Regions from separate parts of the Homo sapiens genome. Here regions 1 and 2 are each linked to region 3. Evidence: fine-mapped expression QTL. A gene starts in region 3. Each other region holds a variant in brackets. All regions are shown on one strand. Distances are from middle to middle. Region 1 has its middle 35 kb from the start of CCR6. Region 2 has its middle 18 kb from the start of LINC02487. Region 3 holds the start of RNASET2 (ribonuclease T2).

Region 1 (10,703 bases), 130 kb before region 3:
AGGAAGGGAGCTCAGGGAAGCTGGTGGGAGTAGAAAGTTCTAGATCTTGATTGGGGTTGCAGTTACACTGGAACACAGTCGTTGTCAAAACTCACTGAAGTGGACCCTGAGAATGGATGCATTTTGCTGTATGTAAGTTATCCCAATAAAGCTGATATTTAAAAATATGTAACACCCCTCCAAGCCAATGCTGATATTGTAAGGATGATTTTCAGTACTGGGCACCGAGCTTCAGTACTGGGCACCGAGCTTCAGTACTGGGCACCGAGCTTCAGTACTGGGCACCAGGGTAGGAGTGAGGTTCCCTGATTTTCAGTCTTTACGGAGCTTTTACCCAGAGAGCTGCAGAGGCAGCACTGGCCAGAATTACTTTGGAACGCACCGTCTGTTTCTTCCTTGTTGCTTTTCACTGGTTAGTAAGAAGATTCACGAAGCTCCTCTGCCTGGCCACCTCCCCCCAACATCAACACACACTGGCACAGGTTCTGGAGGGCATCATTCAGACCCATGCTGTAAACACCCTTTACAGGCTGAGCCCTGAGTCCGTTTCCTCAGCAAAGTACCACAAACAATGTGGTTTAAAACAACGGAAACCTACTTCCTCACTCTTCGGGGGCCAGAGGTCCGAAATCGAGGTGCTGTCAGGGGTGGCTCCATTTGGAGGCTGTGCAGGGAACCGTCCCCAGCCTCGCTTCCCATTTCCGGTGGGGTCTGCAGTTCCTGGTGCCCCTTGACTTGTGAATGCATCACTCCAATCTATGCCTCCGTCTTCACAAACCCTCCGTCTCTGCGTTCTCTCCTGTTTTCATAAGGCCTGCCCTGAATGCAAGATAATTTCACTTTGAGTCCCATAACTAATTGCAACTGCAAAGGCTCTATTTCCAAATAATATAAAATAATATTCCAAATAATATTCTGCGTGAACATGAATTTTGGGAAGACACTATCCAGTTAATAATCATATTAACCGACTCCACTCCTACACGCTGTCTTCAGCCTAGAGCCTCCTGTGGAACTCCAGACGCCGACCCCCACTCAGAGTATTCAGAAGAGTCTCAGATCTGAAGCCAAACTCAATTTCACTCCCCAGACCTGTTCCTCCGACATGTGCTATCATCAAAGCAACAGTCAGTCCTTCCAACTGCTCAGGCCCCAAACCTTGCAGTCGTGCTTGGATTCTTTCTCCACATCAAATACGTCAGCAAAATCAGCAAATGTTCCTGGCCATCTCCAGGATGTATTAATAGTGTATATCCCACATTCATAGCCAGTCATTCCCACTCCTTCCTGCCCCAAACTTTTGCCCTCCAGAGAAGGCAAAGCTTTAGCATGATTCAAATCATGTCTGGATTCTGTTCTGAGCTCCCCAGGGCACCCCACATGCGCCAGGATAATGCCCTGTGTCCTCCCATGACTTAGAGGCCCCGTGGAGCCCTCGCCCTTGCCCTGCTCTCCTCCCGCTGCCCTGTGTCCTTCCCAGCTCTGTTGTTTATGCCAGTTGCCCCGGCAATCACACTGTGTCTGGGATCTGTCCAGCCGGTCCCTGCTCTAGGGCCCTGGTCCTTGCTGCTTCTCTCCCAGGTTGCTCTCCAGACAACCACACTGTCGGCCCCTTGGGTGTCTCAGTTCAAGCTTCCCTGACTACCCAGCTTAAAAGAGCTTCCCGATCCCAACTCCCTTCCTGGCTCTGATGCTGCTTCCTTTTCTCCTGGGCACTGGTCCCCTCCTGGCACGTTGTCGCTTGGATGTAAGGCCCCATAGAGAAGGCGCTTAGCCTGCATTCCTGCCTACCCAGGGTCTAGCGCAGACAGCAGGCGCTCAAGAAAGAGTTGCTGAGTGAGCGTGTGAATGAAGACTTGATGACTGACATACAAAATTAAAGAATCTGGGGTTTTTTAAAAGCTTATCTCATTTTTTGCAACAATCTTTAGACCTGATCTTCGATCAGCCTTTAGCTGATGTATAGATAGGGTGAGGTTGCCACAATCTGGGGTAGATCAGCTTTGTGACTTGTCATCTAAAAAGGGGAAGAGGTTTAACTTGAAAGAGAAAAAAAAAACAGTAGACGACCTTTATGTGGAACAGTTACGCGAAGCCTCATCGGTGGCCAGGCAACTTCCTTTCCAACTTCTTCTTACTCGGGACCCTCTGCCCATGTTTACATCTTGCCAAAGACCATGGAAACTGGTAAACATCTTGCCAAATAAAGCTGTTTAGACTGACTGAACATGCAAAGACGCCCTCTGTCCCTTGGACAACTACAGGTCAGGGAAATGAATGGAAGTCACATGAGACTCTACTCTTTCAAATTCCCTTTTAAAGTGGAAATTCCCTCGCTTGGTTATAGTATTAAAGGGAACAAGCCTAAGAAGTGGAATTACAGGAAAAATGGGCACGTGAGGATATGAGAGTATAGATGGTGTACGCTCATAGATGGTACAGAGTAGATGGGCATCATTTGGATAGAGAAACACAAAACACTCTTTGCTGAACTTGAAGATGATATTGCTGGTTAAGAGCACAGACTTGGGAATTATATCAGCATTTGAATCTCGACTCTTGACCCTACTACTTCCTAATGGGGTGATGTGTGTAAAGTTGTTAATCTTTCTGAGCCCTACCTGCCTCATGTGTGGTATATAGAGATGCAGGCACCTCAAAGGCCTGAGTCTGACACACAGTGGATGGCGAAAATTGGAGAGCTGGAGGAGGAGAGGCACATAGGTCATGCCTAAGTCATGAGAACATACAAACAACAAAATCAACAATAGAAATCTAGCTTCACTTGATTGATCCAGCTTGTCGGAAGATTGCTAAGAGATTCCACTCAACAACTAAACCGCCGTTCCACACTATGATTGCTGACTTGAGGCTGGTAACACCTTTTGGGAACGCTGTCTTGGGAACGTTCACAGGAAAATTGCTCCTTTGGGTACAAGGTTTTGAGATACAATCTCTGGGTCAATGAGTACTTTACATACAGGAACCCCAAAATGGAGGAAGTAGGCTATGGAGGAACAAGAAAAGAAGGGAAAAACAAAGCAGCCACAGAGGCGAGGTGGCTGCTCCCCTTCCTGCCACCTGGAGGAAGTTGGAGGCTAGTTCTGGAGACATCACAGTTTCTATTACTTTGGTTACTTGGCAGAGCCTAAAAACTTCCTCTTGTGTGGAAGAAAGAAAATCCTTTCTGTGTTGCTCCCTGGAGGGAAGAAAACCAGGCTGACTCTTGCTTCCATTTGAGGAGCTCAAAGGAAGCCATTTCCCACGATGGTCCCCCAGGCACAATCCTGCATGGAGCCCAGCCCTGGCCCACAGCTCCTTGACTACAATCCCCTTGACCCATTCATCACCCTTGCCACTGGCCCTATTCTTTGTGACTTGGCTCAACACTGGTGACTTCTTCTGCTGCCCTATTCACCTCCAGTCTGAGACTCAGGAGCATGTGGCCACCTGCTGCCACAGAGATGCCACACACATGGCCCAACGCCAACGGGGTCGCTTAAAATACATTGCTGATCTGTGGCCTATGTCTGGAGGAAAGGGGCCGGTGGGGTCCTACAGTGACCCGAGAGGCTCCTATTCTGAACCACAGAGAGCACCACACCAAGAGGCTGGTGTGATATGCTGCTGGGCCCACAGTTTTCATGGGCCCCATGTGCCTGGAGTGAAAGGTCTTTAGATCAATCAAAGAGATCCAGTGTCTGGGGAGTTCTTGTTTCTTCACACTGACCACTTCAATAACGCAAGGACGGGGATTTTCTTGGCTTTGACCAAGGCTGCAGTCTCTCCAGAGCTGAAAACTCAAGTTACTTCTGCCTGGTTCTGGCCTCCCCTGACTCGGCTCTGCCATTAACCAGTAAAACTAGTATCTCCTGTTCTAGAGGGAGGTCGTCATCCTGGTAGAGGGCCATGTGTAAGGATCTGCACCCCTCTGTTTAATTCTCCAGGAAGGTCACTGCAGCTGAGGTCAACTTCCTCCCCAGAGAAGCAAAACCTGTTGGCTGCAGAGGCTGCTTGTTAAACAGAGAGGCGTTACCTCCAGGAGATGTGTGACATCAGACTTTTCAGGGATAGTGCCCAGAAAGCTCAGAAACTTTGCTTAACAAACTCTTCCAGGTGATTCTGATATTAGCTAAATCTGAAAACCACAGAATTAAATGATGTTAGTTTTTTTCCCTCGAAATTTAAGTTTCATACTGACCCTTGAACTACTTATACTGAAAACATTTCAAACATTGATAGTTCATTGATACTAGCAACTGATCTGAAATTATTACTTTGCCTAAAAAAAACTGACAATTTCAGAATATTATCATTCCTTAGTAGTTTGCATTTATGACATTAGATAGTTCCAACTCCTTCCTCCACTTTGTGCAAATGATTTCATGTATCTTATTTCTACATCTGTCATAAACCCTGTTTACTATTTTTAATTTAGTTAACAATTTTTTTTTTTTTTTTGAGACAGGGTCTCACTCTGTTGCTCAGGCTGGAGTGCAGTGGTGCAGTCATGCCTGACTGCAACCTCACCCTCCTGGGCTCAACCTCCTTGCCTCAGCCTCCTGAGTAGCTGGGACTACAGGCATACACCACCATGCCCAGCTAATTTTTGTATTATTTGTAGAGACAGGGTTTCACCATGTTGCCCAGACTTGTCTCAAACTCCTAAACCCAAGCCATCTGCCCATCTCAGGCTCCCAAAGTGCTGGGATTACAGGCATGAGCCACTGCACCTGGCCACCATAGTTGACAGTCTTTTAAAGAATCAGCCATGAGAAAATGTTTTTAATATCCACTTTTACTATTTCTGGTGCTCACTTCTCTGTGTAACCCCAAATTTTTATCTGGTATAATTTTCCTATAGCCTAAAGAACTACCTTTAACATTTATTGTAGCACAAGTCTCTCAGCAGTGAGTTATCTTAGTTTTTCAGGGTCTAAAAAGCTTTTATTTTTGCCTTTAATTTAAAACAATATTTTAATGGATCTGTAATAGAATAATAGAATTCTGGATTAATTGTTTCAGTACTTTAAGATGTCAGTTCATTAACATCCAGCTTACATGTCTGACAAGAAATCTATTACAATTATCTTTCTTCTTGGGTATGTAATGTCCCCCACAACTCCCAAATGCATTCTACATTTTCTCCTTATCTTTGGTTTTAAAAAGTTTGATTTTATGTGTCTAGGTGGGGTTTTTTTTTTTTTTGGTATGGAGATTTTTTATTTGTTTTTGTATTTATACTGTTGGGATTCCCTGAGCTTCTTGGACCTGAGGTTTGCTGTCTTGCATTATATTTGCAAATTATCTCTTTAAATATTTCTTCTGTTTTATTCCTTGCTGTTTGTTTGCTTGTTCTGGGACTCCAACTGCATGTACATTAGATGATCTCACAGCTCTTG[G/C]AGGCCTTGTTAGACAGAGTTTTTCCCTCTATTTTATGTTTTTTTTTTTGTTGTTTTTTTTTTTTTTTTTTTTCTGAGACAAGAGTGTCACTCTGTCGCCAAGGCTAGAGTGTAGTGGTGTAATCTTGGCTCACTGCAACCTCCGCTTCCTGGGTTCAAGCAATTCTCCTGCCTCAGCCTCCCGAGTAGCTGGGACTGCAGGCATATGCCCCCACACCAGGCTAATTTTTGTATTTTTAGTAGAGATGGGGTTTCACTGTGTTGTCCAGGCGGGTCTTGAACTCCTGACCTTGTGATCCACCTGTCTTGGCCTCCTGAAGTGCTGGGATTACAGGCATAAGCCACTGTGCCCAGCCCATTTTATGTTATTTGTGTGTCATTTTATATGATTCCTGTTGACCTATCTTCAAGTTCCTTAATCTTTCTTCAGCTGAGACTAGTTCACTGATAAGCTTTCTGAAGGAATTCTTTATGTCTTATATATTTTTTGTAGCATTCCCACATGTCTTTTATACTCTCTATCTCTCTGCTGAAATTTCCCATCTGTTCATGTATGCCATATGCCTTTTCCTCTAGATCATTTAACAAATTCTTCAGGGCTTTTTTGTATTGTTTTGTTTTTGTTTTTGTTTTGTTTTGAGATGGAGTTTTTGTTCTTGTCGCTCAGGCTGGAGTGCAATGGTGCAATCTTGGCTCACTGCAACCTCTGCCTTCTGGGTTCAAGCAATTCTCCTGCCTCAACCTCCCTAGTAGCTGGGACTATAGGCACCCAGCACCACGCCTGGCTAATTTTTGTCTTTTTAGTAGAGATGGGGTTTCACCATGTTGGCCAGACTGGTCTCGAGCTCCTGACCTTAGGTGATCTGCCCACTTTGACCTCCCAAAGTGCTGAGATTACAAGTGTGAGCCACCATGCACAGCCTCATCAGAGTTATTTTAAAGCCCCTGTCTTAGAGTTCCCACATCTGGGCCATCTTGAATTCTGGTTCTATTGATTGATTGCTTTATAAGTTGACTATGAGTTGTTTTTGTTTTTGTTTTATTTTGTTTTCTTAACTGTCATTTTTTGATTTACTGCTGGAAATCATGTGTAAAAGTAGACACTGTTTATGCCCTTAAAAAATAGTTTCATGTCAGGGTGAGGCATCGCCTCACCCGGGAAGCACAAGGGGTCAGGGAATTCTCTCTCCTAGCCAAGGAAAGGGGTGACAGACGGCACCTGGAAAATCGGGTCACTCCCACCCTAATACTGCACTTTTCCGACAGTCTTAGCAAACGGCACACCAGGAGATTATATCCTGTGCCTGGCTCAGAGAATCCCATGCCCACGGAGCCTCACTCATTGCTAGCACAGCAGTCTGAGATCAAACTGCAAGTTGGCAGCGAGGCTGGGGGAGGGGTGCCCGCCATTGCCAAGGCTTGAGTAGGTAAACAAAGTGGCCTGGAAGCTCGAACTGGGTGGAGCCCACCGCAGCTCAAGGAGGCCTGCCTGCCTCTATAGACTCCACCTCTAGGGGCAGGGCATAGCCAAACAAAAGGCAGCAGAAACCTCTGCAGACTTGAATGTCCCTGTCTGACAGCTTTGAAGAGAGTAGTGGTTCTCCCAGCATGCAGCTGGAGATCTGAGAACGGACAGACTGCTTCCTCAAGTGTGTCCCTGACCCCCCAAGTAGCCTGACTGGGAGGTACCCCCCAGTAGGGGCAGACTGACATCTCACACGGCCAGGTACTCCTCTGAGACAAAACTTCCAGAGGAATGATCAGGCAGCAACATTTGCTGTTCACCAATATCCGCTGTTCTGCAGCCTCTGCTGCTGATACCCAGGCAAACAGGGTCTGGAGTAGACCTCTGGCAAACTCCAACAGACCTGTAGCTGAGGGTCCTGACTGTTAGAAGGAAAACTAACAAACAGAACATCCACACCAAAACCCCATCTGTACGTCACCATCATCAAAGACCAAAGGTAGATAAAACCACAAAGATGGGGAAAAAACAGAGCAGAAAAACTGAAAATTCTAAAAATCAGAATGCCTCTCCTCCTCCAAAGGAATGCAGCTCCTCACCAGCAACGGAACAAAGCTGGACGGAGAATGACTTTGATGAGTTGAGAGAAGGAGACTTCAGACAATCAAACTACTCCAAGCTAAAGGAGGAAGTTCGAACCCATGGCAAAGAAGTTAAAAACCTTGAAAAAAGATTAGACGAATGGCTAACTAGAATAACCAGTGCAGAGAAATCCTTAAAGGACCCGATGGAGCTGAAAACCACAGCATGAGAACTACGTGACAAATGCACAAGCCTCAGTAGCCAATTCCATCAACTGGAAGAAAGGGTATCAGTGATGGAAGATCAAATGAATGAAATGAAGTGAGAAAGGAAGTTTAGAGAAAAAAGAATAAAAAGAAATGAACAAAGCCTCCAAGAAATATGGGACTACGTGAAAAGACCTAATCTACGTCTGATTGGTGTACCTGAAAGTGACGGGGAGAATAGAACCAAGTTGGAAAACACTTGCAGGATATTATCCAGGAGAACTTCCCCAATCTAGCAAGGCAGGCCAACATTCAAGTTCAGGAAATACAGAGAACACCACCAAGATACTCCTCGAGAAGAGCAACTCCAAGACACGTAATTGTCAGATTCACCAAAGTTGAAATGAAGGAAAAAATGTTAAGGGCAGCCAGAGAGAAAGGTTGGGTTACCCACAAAGGGAAGCCCATCAGACTAACAGCGGATCTCTTGGCAGAAACTCTACAAGCCAGAGGAGAGTGGGGGCCAATATTCAACATTCTTAAAGAAAAGAATTTTCAACCTAGAATTTCATATCCAGCCACACTAAGCTTCATAAGTGAAGGAGAAATAAAATCCTTTACAGACAAGCAAATGCTGAGAGATTTTGTCACCACCAGGCCTGCCTTACAAGAGCTCCTGAAGGAAGCACTAAACATGGAAAGGAACAACCGGTACCAGCCACTGCAAAAACATGCCAAATTGTAAAGACCATCGATGCTAGGAAGAAACTGCATCAACTAACGAGCAAAATAACCAGCTAACATCATAATGACAGGATCAAATTCACACATAACAATATTAACCTTAAATGTAAATGGGCTAAATGCTCCAATTAAAAGACACAGACTGGCAAATTGGATAAAGAGTCAAGACCCATCAGTGTGCTGTATTCAGGAAACCCATCTCATGTGCAGAGACACACATAGGCTCAAAATAAAGGGATGGAGGAAGATCTACCAAGCAAATGGAAAACAAAAAAAGGCAGGGGTTGCAATCCTAGTCTCTGATAAAACAGACTTTAAACCAACAAAGATCAAAAGAGACAAAGAAGGCCATTACATAATGGTAAAGGGATCAATTCAACAAGAAGAGCTAACTATCCTAAATACATATGCACCCAATACAAGAGCACACAGATTCATAAAGCAAGTCCTTAGAGACCTACAAAGAGACTTAGACTCCCACACAATAATGGGAGATTTTAACACCCTACTGTCAACATTAGACAGATCAATGAGACAGAAAGTTAAAAAGGATATCCAGGAAATGAACTCAGCTCTGCACCAAGCGGACCTAATAGACATCTACAGAACTCTCCACCCCAAATCAACAGAATATACATTCTTCTCAGCACCACACCACACCTATTCCAAAATTGACCACATAGTTGGAAGTAAAGCACTCCTCAGCGAATGTAAAAGAACAGAAATTATAACAAACTGTCTCTCAGACCACAGTGCAATCAAACTAGAACTCAGGATTAAGAAACTCACTCAAAACTGCTCGACTACATGGAAACTGAACAACCTGCTCCTGAATGACTACTGGGTACATAACGAAATGAAGGCAGAAATAAAGATGTTCTTTGAAACCAATGAGAACAAAGACATAACATACCAGAATCTCTGGGACACATTTAAAGCAGTGTGTAGAGGGAAATTTATAGCACTAAATGCCCACAAGAGAAAGCAGGAAAGATCTAAAATTGACACCCTAACATCACAATTAAAAGAACTAGAGAAGCAAGAGCAAACACATTCAAAAGCTAGCAGACGGCAAGAAATAACTAAGATCACAGCAGAACTGAAGGAAATAGAGACACAAAAAAACCCTTAAAAAAAAATCAAGGAATCCAGGAGCTGGTTTTTTGAAGAGATCAACAAAATTGATAGACTGCTAGCAAGACTAATAAGGAAGAAAAGAGAGAAGAATCAAATAGACGCAATAAAAAAATGATAAAGGGGATATCGCCACCAATCCCATAGAAATACAAACTACCATCAGAGAATACTATAAACACCTCTACGCAAATAAACTAGAAAATCTGGAAGAAATGGATAAATTCCTTGACACATACACCCTCCCAAGACTAAACCAGGAAGAAGTTGAATCTCTGAATAGATCAATAACAGGCTCTGAAATTGAGGCAATAATTAATAGCTTACCAATCAAAAAAAGTCAAGGACCAGATGGATTCACAGCCGAATTCTACCAGAGGTATAAGGAGGAGCTGGTACCATTCCTTCTGAAACTATTCCAATCAATAGAAAAAGAGGGATTCCTCCCTAACTAATTTTATGAGGCCACCATCATCCTGATACCAAAGCCCAGCAGAGACACAATAAAAAAAGAGAAGTTTAGACCAATATCCCTGACGAACATCGATGCAAAAATCCTCAATAAAATTCTGGCAAACCAAATCCAACAGCACATCAAAAAGCTTATCCACAATGATCAAGTGGGCTTCATCCCTGGGATGCAAGGCTGGCTCAGCATACGAAAATCAATAAACGTAATCCATCATATAAATAGAACCAACGACAAAAACCACATGATTTCTCAATAGATGCAGAAAAGGTTTCCGACAAAATTCAACAGCCCTTCATGCTAAAAACTCTCAACAAATTAGGTATTGATGGGACGTATCTCAAAATAATAAGAGCTATCTATGACAAACCCACAGCCAATATCATACTGAATGGGCAAAAACTGGAAGCATTCCCTTTGAAAACTGGCACAAGACAGGGATGACCTCTCTCACCACTCCTATTCAACATAGTGTTGGAAGTTCTGGCCAGGGCAATTAGGCAGGAGAAGGAAATAAAGGGTATTCACTTAGGAAAAAAGGAAGTCAAATTGTCCCTGTTTGCAGATGACATGATTGTATATCTAGAAAACCCCATCGTCTCAGCCCAAAATCTCCTTAAGCTGATAAGCAACTTCAGCAGAGTCTCAGGTTACAAAATCAATGTGCAAAAATCACAAGCATTCTTATACACCAATAACAG
Region 2 (10,703 bases), 760 kb before region 3:
TGGTGGTTTGCTGCACTGATCAACTTATCTAGGTTTTAAGCCCTATATGCATTAGGTATTTGTCCTAATGCTCTCCCTCCTCTTGCCCACCACCCCAACAGGTCCTGGTGTGTGATCTTCCCCTCCCTGTGTCCACATGTTCTCATTGTTCAACTCCCACTTATGCGTGAGAACATGTGGCGTTTGGTTTTCTGTTCCTGTGTTAGTTTGCTGAGGGTGATGGCTTCCAGCTTCATCCATGTCCCTGCCAAGGACATGAACTCATTCTTTTTTATGACTGCATAGTATTCCATGTGGTCTTAGGTTCTTGTTCCTCCGTGAGGTGACCACTGCCCGGGGATGGCAAGGCAAGGCGTGGGAGTTAATTAGACTTTCCGTCTGTTTTAGATTGAACATAAAATAGCAAAATAAAAATAATCTTCATGTTCCCACCCTCTAATGAAATGTGCACCCACCAAACCTCTTCCTCAGAGTAAAACTAGTTCCTTAGGGACATGGACACCGTGAATTCCAGGAGGCCCCTGCGGTGGTGTGGACAGGCCAGCATGCTCAGGGCTGTGAAACTCAGCTCTGCTGTTTTCTTGCCGAGTGACCCTGGGTCTGTGACTTGACATCTCTGAGCCTCAGCTTCCTCATCTCTACCACGCGGATATAAGACCCTCATCACAGGGCTGGTGAGTGGATCACAAGACATGCTTTCCCTCCTCTTAGCAAAACAGCTGTGACCAAGAGGACAGATAAAGGAAGGGGAATCATGGTGTCAGTCCTGCCAGCACTTAGGGAGTAGCTCATTGTATTAGTCCGTTTTCACTCTGCTGATAAAGACATACCCGACACTGGGCAATTTACAAAAGAAAGAGGTTTAATGGACTTACAGTTCCACGTGTCTGGAGAAGCCTCACAATCATGGCGGAAGGCAAGGAGGAGCAAGTCCTGTCTTACATGGAGGGCAGCAGGCAAAGAGAGAATGAGGAAGAGGCAAAAACAGAAACTCCTGATAAAACCATCAGATCTTGAGAGACTTATTCACTACCACGAGAACAGTATGTGGGAAACTGCCCCCATGATTCAACTGTCTCCCACTGGGTCCCTCCCACAACATGAGGGAATCATGGGGGTATAATTCAAGAGGAGATTTGGGTGAGGACACAGCCAAACCATGTCACCTATCATGTGCTCGGCCCTGAGGTAGGCTTGGATAAATGATGTTTATTTTCATGCATGGAGTTTATGAGCCTATTGTAGGGTGGGAATACTCCATCATGCAGTTAGTTAATAAATAATAAATATACAAATAATTCCAGAGTAAATTATTTAGTGCAAAGTATAAATTCTGTAGGAGCCTAGGGCAAGGGAAATAGATGAGGAGTTAGGGTAACGGTGATCATGCTAAAAATAGCTAACCTTTTAATACGGCTGTTAAGCTAGATCACTCAGGATTAGGTTCAGCTGCAGGTAGCAGAAATCCCACCTAAGAGAGTCTTCAGCTGGATAAATGATATTTCTTTTACATAGAAGAAACCCAGAGGTAGGCAGTCTGGGGTTGGCTTGTTGCCCTTCATCTCACTCCCATTGCTTGTTATTAGGGATCCAGATTTTTCTGTCTTTCTGCTCCATAGTCCTTAATGTGTAGCTTCTAGTCTCCAAATTTCCTCATGGTTGCAAAATGGCGCTGCAGCTGTAGCCATCACATCTGCATTCCAACTAGCTGAATCTGTCCCCTTCAAGTGGCTTTCCTGGGAGCCCCACCCAACAACTTTCTATTGCTAGGGAGCCAGGAAATTTAGTTTCTTAAGAAGGGCACCTTACTGTTTCTAACATATAGGAGTTTTGTGATTAAAAGAGAAGAATAGCTATTGGATACACGGTAGAGAGCACCTGACTGTGAGGTACAGAGCTTCTCCCCTTGTTCCATCTGCCTTGTCTCCTCTTTCTCTCCACTCCACCCTCTTTCCACAGCCCTGGACTCAGCTTAGACTGGCCCAGTGCGAGACGCCTTGGCTCCGTGTGTGTTATGTGCTTCCACATGGCAGCCCGTTTACCTGGACAGTCTGTTTGTCTGCCTAGCTAGACTGCTTCATTTGCCCTGGTGTATCCAGAGCTGAGTGTAGGGCCTGGCACATAGCAAGGTTTCCACAGGACCCTGGGGGATGAAGGTTCAGTGCCGCGTGCGTTGCCTGTTCTATGCAGGTGCCCTCGGGCGCAAGCACCCAGGTGAGGTGGAGGCAGAAGGAAGAGTTGTCCAGTGTCCAGGTCAGACCTCTGTGGATAATCATAATTACTTTACTGAAGTCCTTTTGGTTGCTGTGTTTAGTTTTGTTCTAAACACTGTAATTTAGCCAGGCCACCTCTTCACTGATCAGTATTCCATTGGTGTAATTATTGTCTTTTGCTTAACAAAAGGACATTTTTGACTAAGAGGTATCTTCCCAGACTATGTCAATTTGCTGGAGAGGACAAGGTCTGTGTTAAAAAAAGAAGGTGGAGAGGGAGGAGCAGCCCAGCTGTGAACCACGGTGATGAGTGAATTGATCCTGGAGGAGATGAGCCCAGGTGGGCACGAGGAGCAGTGGAGCGGGGCTGCTGCTGGAGGACTTCCTTCTCTTCTCATTAGGAAATAACTATTGCTTAGGAGAATGTTATCTGTTTGTTGGCAGGGGACAGGGGTGGATCAAGAAAACAGAAAGTACAAAAAGTCAAAAATGTATTCCCAGTCTCATCATCTGGAAATCACTACTTTTTTTTTTAACTCTTATTTTAGGTTCAGGGGTACATGTGCTGGTCTGTTATGTAGGTGAACTTGTCATGGGGGTTTGTGGTGTAGATTATTTCATCACCCCGGTACTAAGCCTAGTACCCAATAGTTATTTTCTCTGCTCCTCTCCCTCCTCCCACCCTCCACTCTCTGATGGGCCCCAGTCTCTGTTGTTCCCCTTGTTGTGTCCATGAGTGCTCATCTTTTAGCTCCCACTTCTAAGTGAGAACATGTGGCGTTTGGTTTTCTGTTCCTGCGTTAATTTGCCAAGGATAATGGCTTCTGGCTCCATCCATGTTCCTACAAAAGACATGATCTTGCTCTTTACTCTGGCTGTGTAGTGTTCCATGGTGTATACATACCACATCTTCAGAGTCCAATCTGTCATTGATGGACATTTAGGTTGACTCCATATCTTTGCTACTGTGAATGGTGCTGGTATGAACACAGGTGCACATGTGTCTTTATGGCAGAATGATTTATATTCCTTTGGGTATATATCCAGTAATGGTATTGCTGGGTTGAACGGTAGTTCTGTTTTTAGCTCTGGAGGAATCACCACACTTCTTGCAGATCACTACGGTTAATGTTTCATAAACATCATTTTAGAGCTTTTGCCATGTGTATATTCTCCCAGAAGAGTAGATAGAAATAATTTTACACAAATGAAATACATCATGTATTCGATTTAACATTACTTGTATTTAACTAAAGAAAATGAATCTCAAACTGAACATGAAGGAAATGGATAAGTGAAGATGTGTGTTTTCTTTATAAGTGATATTAGTGATTTTTCCTAAAAATCTAAAATTCAAAAAGTTAAGCTACAAAGTTGGGGTTAGGGTCAACCTTTTTTTTTTTTTTAAATCTAATGTTATAACTTTAAAAAGATCTGTTGATTTCTTCCCCTTGAATTTGCACAATTCATATCTCCTACCCACTTTTCTTCCTCCCCCATGACTTTTGTTCGTAGACTATTTTTACAGACTTGCATTTTATATCATCTACATTTTGTTCCGTGCCACAATTACCATGTATTTCATGTGAGACCCTTCCATATTCAAATGCATTCAGCATTCTTTCCTTCCAGCTTCTTCATGCCTGAATTTTAACATTTTTATGATTCAACTGCTGTATGGCTAAATTTTTGTCATCAAGTATTTTTTTTTTCGAGAAGGGCTCCTGGGTGCTATAGTGATGGAATTCTTCTGTGGTTGAGAATACACCTTAGCAGGTTCTATGTATGGCTGAGCCTTGAACAACAGGGTTTTGAGCTGTGCGGATCCACTTATATGTGGATTTTCTTCCCCCTCTGCCACCCTCCTCTTCCTCCTCCTCCACAGCCTCCCCAGCGTGAAGACGACGCGGATGAAGAGCTCATGACGATCCATCCCCAATTCATGAATAGTAAATGTCTTTTCTCTTTCTCACTATTTTCTTAATAACGTTTTCTTTCCTCTAGCTCACTTTATTATAAGAACACAGTATATGATATAAATCACGTATAAAATAGGTATTAATCAACTGTGTATGTTATCAACAAGGCTTTTGCTCAACAGTAGGCTATGAGGAGTTACGTTTTTGAGGAGTCAAAAGTTAAGCTGATTTTTTTTTTATTGCATGGGGCGTCGACACTGCTACCCCACGAGCTGTTCAAGGGTCCGCCGTCACTCTTGGGTGTCTTTTCCCTCAGGAGGAGCCGGTACCTGACCTGGAATGCCTGGTGTGAGCGTAGCTGGGCAGGGGACACCTCTGCCTCGTAGGAGGCTTTTCCCCAGCCTGGACACTCACATGACATTTTCTCACCCTGGAGACTCAGTGACCCCACTCGGGCGTGTCTCGGTGAGGAATGGTTGTGAGCCGGTTGTTCCTAGAACAGGGGAAAAATGTCCCTTTAATCTGCAGATGCAGACTTGGCTTGTTGAGGAACATCTTTCCAATTTTATCTATATATTCTTTTCTGTTCTATTTATTTCTGTTTCAGATATACCGGTTGTCCCTGTATTGGGCTCATCTTCATATTTAATTAGGTTGAATCATATGAAATTGTTATTTTTGACCACTTTTTAAAACCTATAAAAATTCAGAGAAAGCCGCTCAAATATTCTTGTGGTTCCAATTAAAATTCCTTTCTTTTCCCTTGTCCTTTCTTTCATTGCATTATCTGTGATTATCAATAAGCCCTTTCTGCATGTACCTAATCAGGATTTAGCTGTGTTTATCCGGCTCCTTGTGGTTTCTGATATAGGTATTATTTATCTAATGAAGAATTAGTAGCCTCAATTTGTTTCTGTATCTCTTCAATTTTTCTTTGCATTTTATTCCAGTTGTCTCATTTCATTTTTGAATTCTTTTCTCAGCGACTTCTTACTCTCTTTATTTTTAGCTAACTTTCACATTATTTATTATTGGAAGCTTTTTAAAATTTCTTGCAATATGCTGCAACAGTAGGTTTAACCTTTGTGTTTTGCA[C/T]GCAATTTCTCTCTCTCTTTTTTTTTCTTCTCAGCTGTACTATGTCTAGATACTCCTGTGCCTGTCTGCCTGCCTTTCTCTCTTCTAGCCGCCCTCCCTCCCTTCCTGCTTTCCTTCCTTTTCAGCTCACTCAACGTGGGAAGCCCTGTGAATCTTCTCTCTGCCTAAACAGAATGTGAAACTTCCCTGGGACTGTTGGGTTCTGTATCCTCCCTGCTCTGGTGGGGCTTGAAGGTACAGCTGGAAGCTCTCATCTTTGTGCAATTTTGTTAGTAGTCTGGGACGGTGGAGGAACTCTTGCAAGCTCAGGGCACAGCCCGTTCTGCAGGCGATGCCCTTGGGTGTCCGCTTATTGCCCCGATTTAGGAAGGAGTTTGTTCTCTGCCAGATACAAGGACCCCTGTGTGGGCTCCTCCCATCCCCATGGAAGCAGAGAAAGAGGGGGATGGGGCAGGGGGGAGTTGCCCCTGGATGTCCTGAGGATCCCTGTGCCTGAAGGGGTCTTGTTCTCTTTCCAATTCCTTCCCTCCATCCTAATGTGTTTGCTGCTATAGAATATTCCGCCCTGGACAACTGCGGTCAGTCGGTCCTCTCGTTTTCCTCTCCAGCTCCTCCTCCTGCTCATCTCTGGGGTTCCTCGGAGGTAAGAGGTAGGTGAGGGCTTTAACCCCAGAGACTCTCCTTCAACTGCTGACCAGTTGTTTCTTTTCGAATTTAGGTTTATTCGTGAAAAAGCTCAGAATGCTATCCGCTTACCCTCTTCCCCAAGGTTCTATTTCTCAGGGACAGGAGGCTGTTGTTGATTCCCATACTTTTTCCTCCTGGACTTCACTTTTAAAAGATGATGACATGAAGCTAGCCTTTCTTTTTTGGATGTTACTGTAGTGTTTTAAAACTGGTTTTCACTGGTTGCTTATTGTTCAGTTTTATTAGGTTTTGCAGGATGTTTCTGTGGTCTGGCTTTATTTGGAGAAGGACCCTTAGTGTGTTTTAAATATAATGTAAAATGTAAAGGTCATTTCCACAATGCTCAATTCCTAGGCTTCCTCCCAGGTGTCTTCCACCAGCCTCTGATACACAGGTCTCTGCCCCTGGAGACGCCTGCATGGCCTCAGACAGACCCAGCCCTCTCTACCTCTCACTGTGCTCCCCCGAGTCCCTGCAGAATATGCTGGGAATTCATGGTCCTGAGATGGGAGGGGCTGGCTGCAATAGCCTCGCTCTGTTCCAGCCCTTCCAAAACCAGGATGGCCTTGCCTGCTTTACCCCAGTGAGTCCTGGAACGCCAAGGTATAAAACCCAGGGCGGGATGCTTTCTGGGGTCCTCAGCCACAGTGCAAATAGAGCACATTCAGGTGAGACCTCTCTGCCCCAGCCACTTCCCTGAGCCTGGGGGACTGCCTGGCTATGAGCCCTGGGCTCCTGCGGTTCCTCGATGCCTATATATAAGTAGTCACCCGCTTCACGTAGCTTGTGTGGGAGGGGTCCTGGCTCCCTGGACTTGGGTAAGTAGTAAGAGTGCAGCCCAGGACGCCGTGGGCTGAAGTGGAGGCCAGTGCCTGGCAAGCCTGCTTCCAACCTCCTGCCTGTGTGGCTTCCTGTGCCCCACCCTCCAGGGCTCTTGCTGCCTCCCCACCAGCGTGCCCACGTCTGCCTCCTCTGCTGCCCCTTTGGGTCCTTCGACCTCTCGCAGTGGCCGTGGTCCAGGCGTCAGTCCTTGGGGCCTTGTTTTTCCCTTCTTGGTGGTCTTGTCCAGGCTGTGGGTTTAAACCCCTTCATGCGTTGATGACCTTGATGCCTCTCTCTTCCGGACCTATCTTCCGAACCCCATCTCAGCCTCCCTGATGGGAGGGCTCACAGGTGTTCCCTGTCCACCCAGCCCGTGCCACCTGCCATCCACATCCTAGCCCTGGCAGTGCACCTGGCCTGGCAGAATCAGGCCGGCTCTGAGGCAAGGAGAGCACTGAGTGCTGGGGGTGGGTGAGGCGGGGCGGGCAGAAGCCAGCAGGCAGCGGGTCCATGGGAGAGGGACGGCTGTGCTGGCACCCACTGAGGACCCTCACCCAGCCCGCGCCACCTGCAGCCTCCCTATCCCAGCCTGTCCAGGGGAGGAACTTCCAACCCAGGAGCCACCCTGGCCCCTTTCCTTCTCCACGCCCACATCCAGGCTGTCAGAAAATTCTGTCTCCGCTTTCACAGTTCAGACCCAGAGCCCGCTGCTGCTCCAACTTCCCCACCAGTCCCAGCCACCCTCATTCCCCCTCCATTATGCAACGGGCTTCTATTTCTCAGTCTCCTTGCTTAACCTCTGCTTATTCTCAGCAAGGGGATACCCACAATGGCTTACTCTCTCTTTCAGAATAACAGGCAGTTCCCCAGGCCCTATCTCTCCATTCTCACCTCCCTCTGCCTAGAAGGGTCCTCCTGGAAGCACATCTCTGCTCAGCGCCCCTGCTCAGCTGCGGCTTCTGGTGAGGCCTACCCTGGCCACTTCATTTCAAATTGCAGCTCTCCCTGGCACCTCCGCCAGCTTTACTGTCACTGTTCACACCCTACGCTGTGTTCCTATTTCCTGCTCCTTATCTGTTTCTCTTGTTGGAGTGCAAATTCCACGAAGGAAGGGTTTTGATTCTCTTCAGTTCACAACTGTGCCCAGCACCTAGTAGACAACACACATGCAGTGAACAAACACATCAGTGCAAGTTCAGTAAGTGAATTCTCATGGAAACAAGCTGTGGATTTAGAAGCAAAAGGCTTGGGGTCCCATCCTGAGTCCACCACTCGTGCAAACGCTCCATGATTCGGTCTCTTACCCCTCAGGTGGGGATGCTACCAGCCTGAATGATGGTGGCAATGTGCCTGCCATGGTTACCTAAATGAAAATCCACTTCCAGATTATGTCTAGTGCATAAATTAAGTAGCTACCTGGGCTCAGAAAATAGCCAGAAGTGGAAAGCTTTATAAATAGTGGGTTACAGGAAAAATAAAGAACTTTGTTCAGTCACCTCAGCTGCAGTCAACCCCCAAGGAGGGAAAGAGGAGCCCCACCGCCTCCCGCATGTCATTCAGCTCCTCTCCCAGCCAGCTTCGTCTCCACATGCACACAGGCTCAGGGTAATTACACGGCTTGTTTGAGAAGCCAGTCTGGAGCCAAATTCTTCTTTTTCCCTCAAATGCGCGGCCTGTTCTCCTACGCCGCAGCAACCCTCAACTGCAAAACATACAAATGAAATATTCAGATCATTACTTCTGATATCATTACTCTTCACTTCCTCACTTTTTTGTGAACTTCTATTAATAGACCATACTTAGGTGACCCAGAGGGACAGGCCATCACTTACTAGAATTTGAAGTAATTATTTAAAAACATTGATTGGACTTAGCTTTCTACCCTTTATGGAGAAATTCTAATGACCTGACTTCATTGTGCACATTATCCAATTTGCACATCAACACGTGACATTTCTGTTTAATTCTGGTTTTGTCACATTGATTTTTTCCCCTAGTATATAATAATGCCATCATATTGAGAATTATAAAAGTTCAGAACGATCCCTAACTCCCCTGAAACCTGTCATTATACTTACATTTCCAACTAACTTTCTAGAATTCTATGTTTCTTCCTTTGTTTTATGAAAATTCCAGGTAGTGAGGCTTCATTTCCTTGGCAAGGTCTCTTTGGGAACTTTTCCTTGAAACACAGAGAAGGAGCTGGCTCTCAGCATCACTAAGACGGCTCTGCTGGGCTCTCTCCGGCGGGTGCGGGGTCTGCAGGCACACATGCTATGGCGCAGGCTGTGTGACTGCAAAACCCACCAGGAAAGACCCAGCAAGGGAACTGGGGTTGCCATCCGTGTGTGAAAGGGAGAAGGGATGGAAACTTGTTTGCGTCTGTCCCCTGGTGAGCACTTGCTTCCCGATGACTCTCATTATTCATAAAAAGCGTGCATCACAAAGATAACCCCAGCTGCATGGAAGGTGCCAAGATGTGATGGAAATTAGGAGGAGGTAATTGCTCGCCCGTGCTCTCTCTGTGATAAGCTTCCATGAGAGAAGACAGAATATTTAAGAGCCTGAAGTCACCATGTGATGCCTGTACAACGAGGCCAGCATGGCTTGCTGGAGCCCCAGAGAACGTCTTTGATGATGACATTGCCCTCAATGCTCCTGGTTCTCTTTTTCCTTTTCTTTTTAAAAATAACTCCTCCCGTCTCCCCAGGGCCTTCACTAGTGCGTCTGGGAGGTTATTTGGAGGTGGGAGAGCTTTGGATCAGGATGATGAATATCGAGGACTTAGCTCTGTGTCGGGCACCCAGCGGCACCCTGGACTCAAGAGCCGCCCCCCAGATGGACACTTTTCAGGAGCCGGGGCTGCCCCCAGGGCACCTGCCCACCCGTTCCCATTAGAGCCATCTCTCCACATGAATGGGGACTGGCAACCCTGGCGTCTGAGTTGTGCTGTCCGGCAACTGCCAGGCTGGTTCACAGGCTGTGGGGTGTGATGGGTGATGCCAGGCTGTGGGGTGTGATGGGTGATGCCAGGCTGGTTCATAGGCTGTGGAGTGTGATGGGTGATGCCAGGTTGGTTCACAGGCTGTGAGGTGTGATGGGTGATGCCAGGCTGGTTCATAGGCTGTGGGGTGTGATGGGTGATGCCAGGCTGTGGGGTGTGATGGGTGATGCCAGGCTGGTTCACAGGCTGTGGGGTGTGATGGGTGATGCCAGGCTGGCTCATAGGCTGCGGGCTGTGATGGGTGATGCCAGGCTGGTTCACAGGCTGTGGGGTGTGATGGGTGATGCCAGGTTGGTTCACAGGCTGTGAGGTGTGATGGGTGATGCCAGGCTGGTTCACAGGCTGTGGGGTGTGATGGGTGATGCCAGGCTAGTTCACAGGCTGTGGGGTGTGATGGGTGATGCCAGGCTGGTTCACAGGCTGTGGGGTGTGATGGGTGATGCCAGGCTGGTTCATAGGCTGCGAGGTGTGATGGGTGATGAGGTTCACCCCCCGATACTTTCAGCTGAAGCTATTTGAGAAAAGTGCAGAAGCAGGAAGCCACACTCACCTTCCTTCCTCCTCTCCTGACTTGGGTCATAAAAGTCAGGCAGGACTCTCTGGCCCTCCCGGGAAGCTGGTCTAGGAGCCCCGCCTGTGAGAAGTGGCCACCCCATCATGTGGAGTGGAGTGTCCTTAGCTCGGGAGCTGAAGGGCCACACAGGCCTGCCAGGTCCCCCCGCTTTGCTGCCAGTAGATCATGCTGCTTCCTTCTGTTCTTTCCTTCCACCGCCCCATTTTCACCAAACCCCCTGTGAAACACACTCAGGCTCGCCTGTTTCTTCGGGTTGGCATTTCCTTATGAAGGCTCTTGTGTCACATAAAACTTAGATGAAGTAAAATGTGCACTTTCCTTTGTCCATCTGTCTGTTGTGATAGAAGCTTCAGCCGTGAACCTAGGATGGGTGAGGAAAGACGTCTTTC
Region 3 (5,000 bases):
AAATCTTTAATGTTGTGAGCCCTTAAAAGGGACAGAAATTGTGCATTCGGGGAGCTCGGATTTTAAGGCAGTAGCTTGCCGATGCTCCCAGCTGAATAAAGCCCTTCCTTCTATAGCTCGGTGTCTGAGAGGTTTTGTCTGCCGCTCCTCCTGCCACAGGATTACAGTCGCGTGCCACCCCCGCCCAGCAAATTTTTGTATTTTTAGTAGGGACAAAAGGCCCCCAGGCCCCTGCAATAATGGTCCTCATAACACCACTCCTCCCCGAGTCCAGATTTGCTTTATATTTGGCAGTGGTCACAACAGCCCTCCTTGACAAGGGGCTGTTTAAACACACCGGACTGTGATTTAAAGGAAAATGAGGATTCTGGGAAGCACTTTTGTTTTAAGAAAATTATTTTTTTAGCTTAAAAGAAAAGAGAAAAAGAACTGTGGCGTGTGCCTATATTCTTGAGAGGAAGGAATGAAAGGAGCCGGAAAGAAACAAATAAGTCGTTAGGGAAAAGGAGAACGAGAATAACACCATGACCTGTAGGAGGTCCTGGAGGAGCTAAGGAGGTGTCAGCCATTTTCCCCCCCCATCTGTTCCACAGGTGGCATTTTATTGAGCACCGACTGTCCCCCATCCACTGTGCTCAGTGGCAGGGACTCAAGGTGGGCAAAATAGACATGGGCCTTGCCTTGCAGTCTAGTGGGAAAAACAGATTAATCATTTAAATATTTTGTTTCAAAGAATGGTAATGCATGCAGGCAAGGTCCAGGCCTGTGGGAGAGCAGGCTACAGGCCCACCTGCTATTTAGACAGTTACCAGTGGCAGAGGACCCCGAGGAAGGCGCAGTTTACTCGACGTGTAAATAGGAATAGCCTTAACTAGCTGTGGGTGTGCGGACAGGGAAGGGAAAGAGGAGAAACATCTGCAGAGACAATGCCGGGTGCACAGCCCGTGGGCGGGGCCGCGGGTGCAGGGGAACCCGTGCCTCTGAAGGGCTGGGAAGGCCAGGGTGTTGGGGGAGGAGACCGGGCCTATGGGACTGGCCCTGGCTACGCCAAGGTGGGGCTGACATGAAGTCCCCTTCATCCGTGGGGGGTGGCCCGTCCCTCTGGGAGGGGATCCCTCACAAGATGACTTCCCAGGTCGCGCCCCGAGGCGGCTCTTTGCTGCCCCCACAGAGATGACTTCCGGGCTCCTGGGGCCCGCGGGGAGGGGCAGGTGAGGCCCAGGGCTGGGTGAGGGCCAGGCCCTTCTAGGAATGTTGGTGCTCCCAGCACCTAGCACCGGGAGACTGGAGAGGTTTCCAGGAGAGTGACCCGAGTAGGTCCCCTCCTAATTCTGGAGCCGTCCCTCGGGCTGCGCAGTGGAGCGCCGAGGTGGCGGGAGGCTGCGGGGAGCCTGGGCGGCCAAGCACCATCTGCAGTCAGGAGCTCCCGGGCAGCTTGCAGGGCGCAGTTTTTGAAAGCGGGTGCTGCGTGCGGACCGCGGGCCTGCAGGGTGCGCGGGTCGGGCTGGGGGCTGTCCCTGGAGAGTAGAGTGGCCCTGGGGCCCGCACGCCCACTTGCTGGCGGGGGATGGCGCAGACACGGGCGGTCCCCCCGAGGGCGGTCCTCACGGGTGGTCTAGGTTAGCTCGGACCCGGGAGTGTGGGAGTGGCGCAGAGCTGCGGGAAAAGGCGCGGGGCGCCTGCGTGGCGAAGGAACACAGCCGCCTGACACGCCCTCAAGGCCCGCGGAGCTGCTCCTGCCTCGGCCTCTCTGAGCCAACCACGGGGCGGGGCGTGAACGCCGGGCGGGGACGTGCCGTTCTGGGGGGCGTGTCCACCGGCGGGGGCGTGCCGTCCTGGGGGCGTGGCTCTCTGCTCCGGTGCAGGCCCGCAGGGCGCCCTGGGCTGGGAGCAACGCGACTGACCGTGGTCGTGGGCGGACGGCGGCTGCAGCGTGGAGGAGCTGGGGTCGCTGTGGGTCGCGAAGCAGAGCCCGGGACGTGCGCGCTTGGTGCACGATCCTGAAGGGGAGCTCCGAGGGGCCCGGGTCGCCAGGGCTGCTGCGGCCATTCCCGGAGCCCGGCGCGGGGCCCGCGAGATACTGGTTTAGGCCGTCCCAGGGCTCCGGGCGCACCCGGTGGCCGCTGCTGCAGCGGAGGGAGCGCGGCGGCGCGGGGGCTCGGAGACAGCGTTTCTCCCGGAAGTCTTCCTCGGGCAGCAGGTGGGAAGTGGGAGCCGGAGCGGCAGCTGGCAGCGTTCTCTCCGCAGGTCGGCACCATGCGCCCTGCAGCCCTGCGCGGGGCCCTGCTGGGCTGCCTCTGCCTGGCGTTGCTTTGCCTGGGCGGTGCGGACAAGCGCCTGCGGTGAGTTACCTTGCGAGGTAAAGTGGGGAGCGTGGGAGCCGGGCCCTAGAGCTTTCCACTGGGTGAAGGCTGCAGCTCTCGGGGTCGGCGGTCGCTGAGCCCCGGGCAGCGACTGGGGAGGGCGGGGGGAGCCGAGCACGCTCCGGGGTGACCCCTGGGAAGAAGTTGGGAAGTTGAGCACGCCTCGGGGTGACCCCTGGAGGGAGTGGGTTGGGGGGAGCCCTTAGCACACTCAGAAGTGACCTCTGGGAAGGAGTGCGATGAGGGGAGTCCTGAGCACGCCCCGGGGTGACCTCTGGGAAGGAGTGGGTTGGGGGGAGCCCTGGGCACGCTCTGGGGTGACTCCTGGGAAGAAGTGGGTTGGGGAGCCCTGAACACTCCCCGGGGTGACCCCTGGGAAGGAGTAGGGGGTAGGGTGAGGTCCTGGGTACACTCCAGCCTGGAGCTGGACTGGAAACTCATCCCACAGACTGCTCCCAGCCTAGGACGCGACAAAGCAGGTGGCAGGCTTGGTGGAGCACTGTTCCTGCACTCGAAGTTCTCTCAGAGGTCGAAGAAGTCGTGGAGGGGACACTTAATTTCAGCTTTCACTGCGGCGGGTGGTGAAACGACGGTTCTTCCTCTTTTTGAGTATCCTGTTCTGAATCCCTTCCCTTGGCTCGCCCTCCGCGTGTGTGTGTGTGTGCGCGTGTGTGTGTGCGCGTGTGTGTGTGTGCGTGTGCGTTTGTGTGTGCGTGTGTGTGTGCGTGCGTGTGCGTGTGCGTGCGTGCGTGTGTGTGCGTGTGTGTCGTGTGTGCGCGTCTGTGCGTGTGTGTCGTGTGTGCGCGTGTGTGTGTGTGCGTGTGTGCGTGTGTGTGCGTGCGTGCGTGTGTGCGCGTGTGTGCGTGCGTGTGTGCGTGCGTGTGTGCGTGTGTGTGTGTGGCAGCCGCCCAAATTAATTAGGGGTAAACAGGCGGTGCTGCAAAGAACTCCAACTTTAATTCTGTGGAAGATACCAATATTTGAATACCATATTATTTCTTTCTATTTGGGTAATGATCGGGTTAATAGGATTTCTTACTTACATAGTAGGTGTGGAAAAGGTGGGTTTTACTTATTTATTTTTTTTTAGACAGTCTTACTCTGTCACTCAGGCTGGAGTACAGTGGCGTGACCTCAGCTCACTGCAACCTCCACCTCCCGGGTTCAAGCGATTCTCCTGCCTCAGCCTCTGAGTAGGTGGGATTACAGATGCACACCACCACGCCTGGCTAATTTTTGTATTTTTAATAGCCAGGCTGGTCTCGAACTTCTGACCTCAGGTGATCCGCCCGCCTCGGCCTCCCAAAGTGCTGGGATTACAGGCGTGAGCCACTGCACCCGGCCAGGGTTTTACTTTTTAAACACCTTAGGTATATATTTTTAATCATGTACATTAAAATGTAGCATTATATTTCAGTGTTCCGGAAAGTGTATTTTCTGAAAAAGAGCTACATTTATGTCCTTATTTATTGGCCATGAGGTTCAGAGCCTCTCACTGGGGAAGTCTGTGGCATGCTGGCCCTTGCTGGCTGAGTGGAAACTGCTAGTTCACACCCAGGTGTGGGACCTTTGAGCTCTCTATGCCCCAGTTTCCTCATCTGTAAAGTAGAAATAGTAACAGTCAGCCTCACAGAGTTGGCTTCAGGAGAAATCAGTTAAGGTACAGAATGTAACTTGGAATGATGTCTGGCTGGAAGTAAACATTAGCATAAAACAGGCTGTCATATGTGGATCCCCCACCCCAGCCCATAATTCATGCAACTGATATGATCGGACAAACTTGAGCAGGCAAGATTTGCGAGAACATGGTTGATTCAGACCACGAGGGCTTCATAGGTCAGCGGGCATTTTCCCAAGTTCTAACTGGTTTTGAGACCTTGGTGATTTTTCTTTCTTCTTTGACTTTCTTTAGCTTCTCCATTACTTTCTCCGTGAATAGGGGAGGGGGGCATCTGTGTGGGAGGGGGTCTCCTGCAGTCACATCACTCTGCCTGGTTTTAGATGGAGAGTTTGTTACAAACGTCTGAGTCTTGGTAGTTTTGTTGTAAGCATATTGATAGTCTCATCTTCCTGGGTGTTGCTAAGCTTTCCAGCCTCAGGTTCCGACTATGTAAAATAAGGTTTTTCACCCAAGGGTAAAAAATGCTTTACCAGCTCCAATTCTCACCCTGCAGCTCATCCTTTTTTTTTTTTTTTGAGACAGGGTCTGGCTGTGTAGCCCAGGTTGGAGTGCAGTGATGTGATCTGGGCTCACTGCATCTTCCACCTCCTGGGCTTAAGCTATCCTCTTGCCTCAGCGCCTTCCAAGTAGCTGGGACTACAGGTTCATGCCACCACACCTGGCTAATTTTTGTAGAGACAGGGTTTCACCATGTTGCCCAGGCTGGTCTTGAACTCCTGAGCTCAAGCAATCCTCCTGCCTCTGCCTCCCAAAGTGCTGGGATTATAGGTGTGAGCCACCACGCTTGAACCCTTTTTTCCTTTTATACTGAGAGCTTGCATAATTAGTTCCAATGTACAACTAAGTTTTCATACCATCTTAACTGTAAATTCTATACAAATTCAACAGGACTCAATTATTTACAAAAGCTAATGTGTGACAACTTGATCTTCTTACTTGGAATCTTCCCTTCTAAA

What was found. PIP is the estimated chance that this variant, and not a neighbour inherited with it, causes the effect.
Region 1: its variant is the best candidate, but not a certain one, in a credible set for the expression of RNASET2 in transverse colon (GTEx, PIP 0.82).
Region 2: its variant is the best candidate, but not a certain one, in a credible set for the expression of RNASET2 in monocytes (Quach 2016, PIP 0.62).

The regions. Positions count from the first base shown.
Region 1 is chr6:167,082,741-167,093,443 of GRCh38, reverse strand. No RefSeq gene overlaps it. Among named protein-coding and RNA genes, the nearest start is that of CCR6, 35 kb to the left of the region's middle. RefSeq lists enhancers at 49-118, 1,004-1,063. The variant G/C (reference allele first, on the strand shown) is at 5,403.
Region 2 is chr6:167,709,045-167,719,747 of GRCh38, reverse strand. No RefSeq gene overlaps it. Among named protein-coding and RNA genes, the nearest start is that of LINC02487, 18 kb to the right of the region's middle. RefSeq lists enhancers at 6,205-6,773, 6,774-7,342, 10,684-10,703. The variant C/T (reference allele first, on the strand shown) is at 5,228.
Region 3 is chr6:166,953,439-166,958,438 of GRCh38, reverse strand. It overlaps RNASET2 (ribonuclease T2), which reads left to right and starts at 1,889. Exons shown (of 9, transcript NM_003730.6): 1 at 1,889-2,342. The coding sequence starts at 2,257. RefSeq lists silencers at 904-953, 1,224-1,323, 1,364-2,123.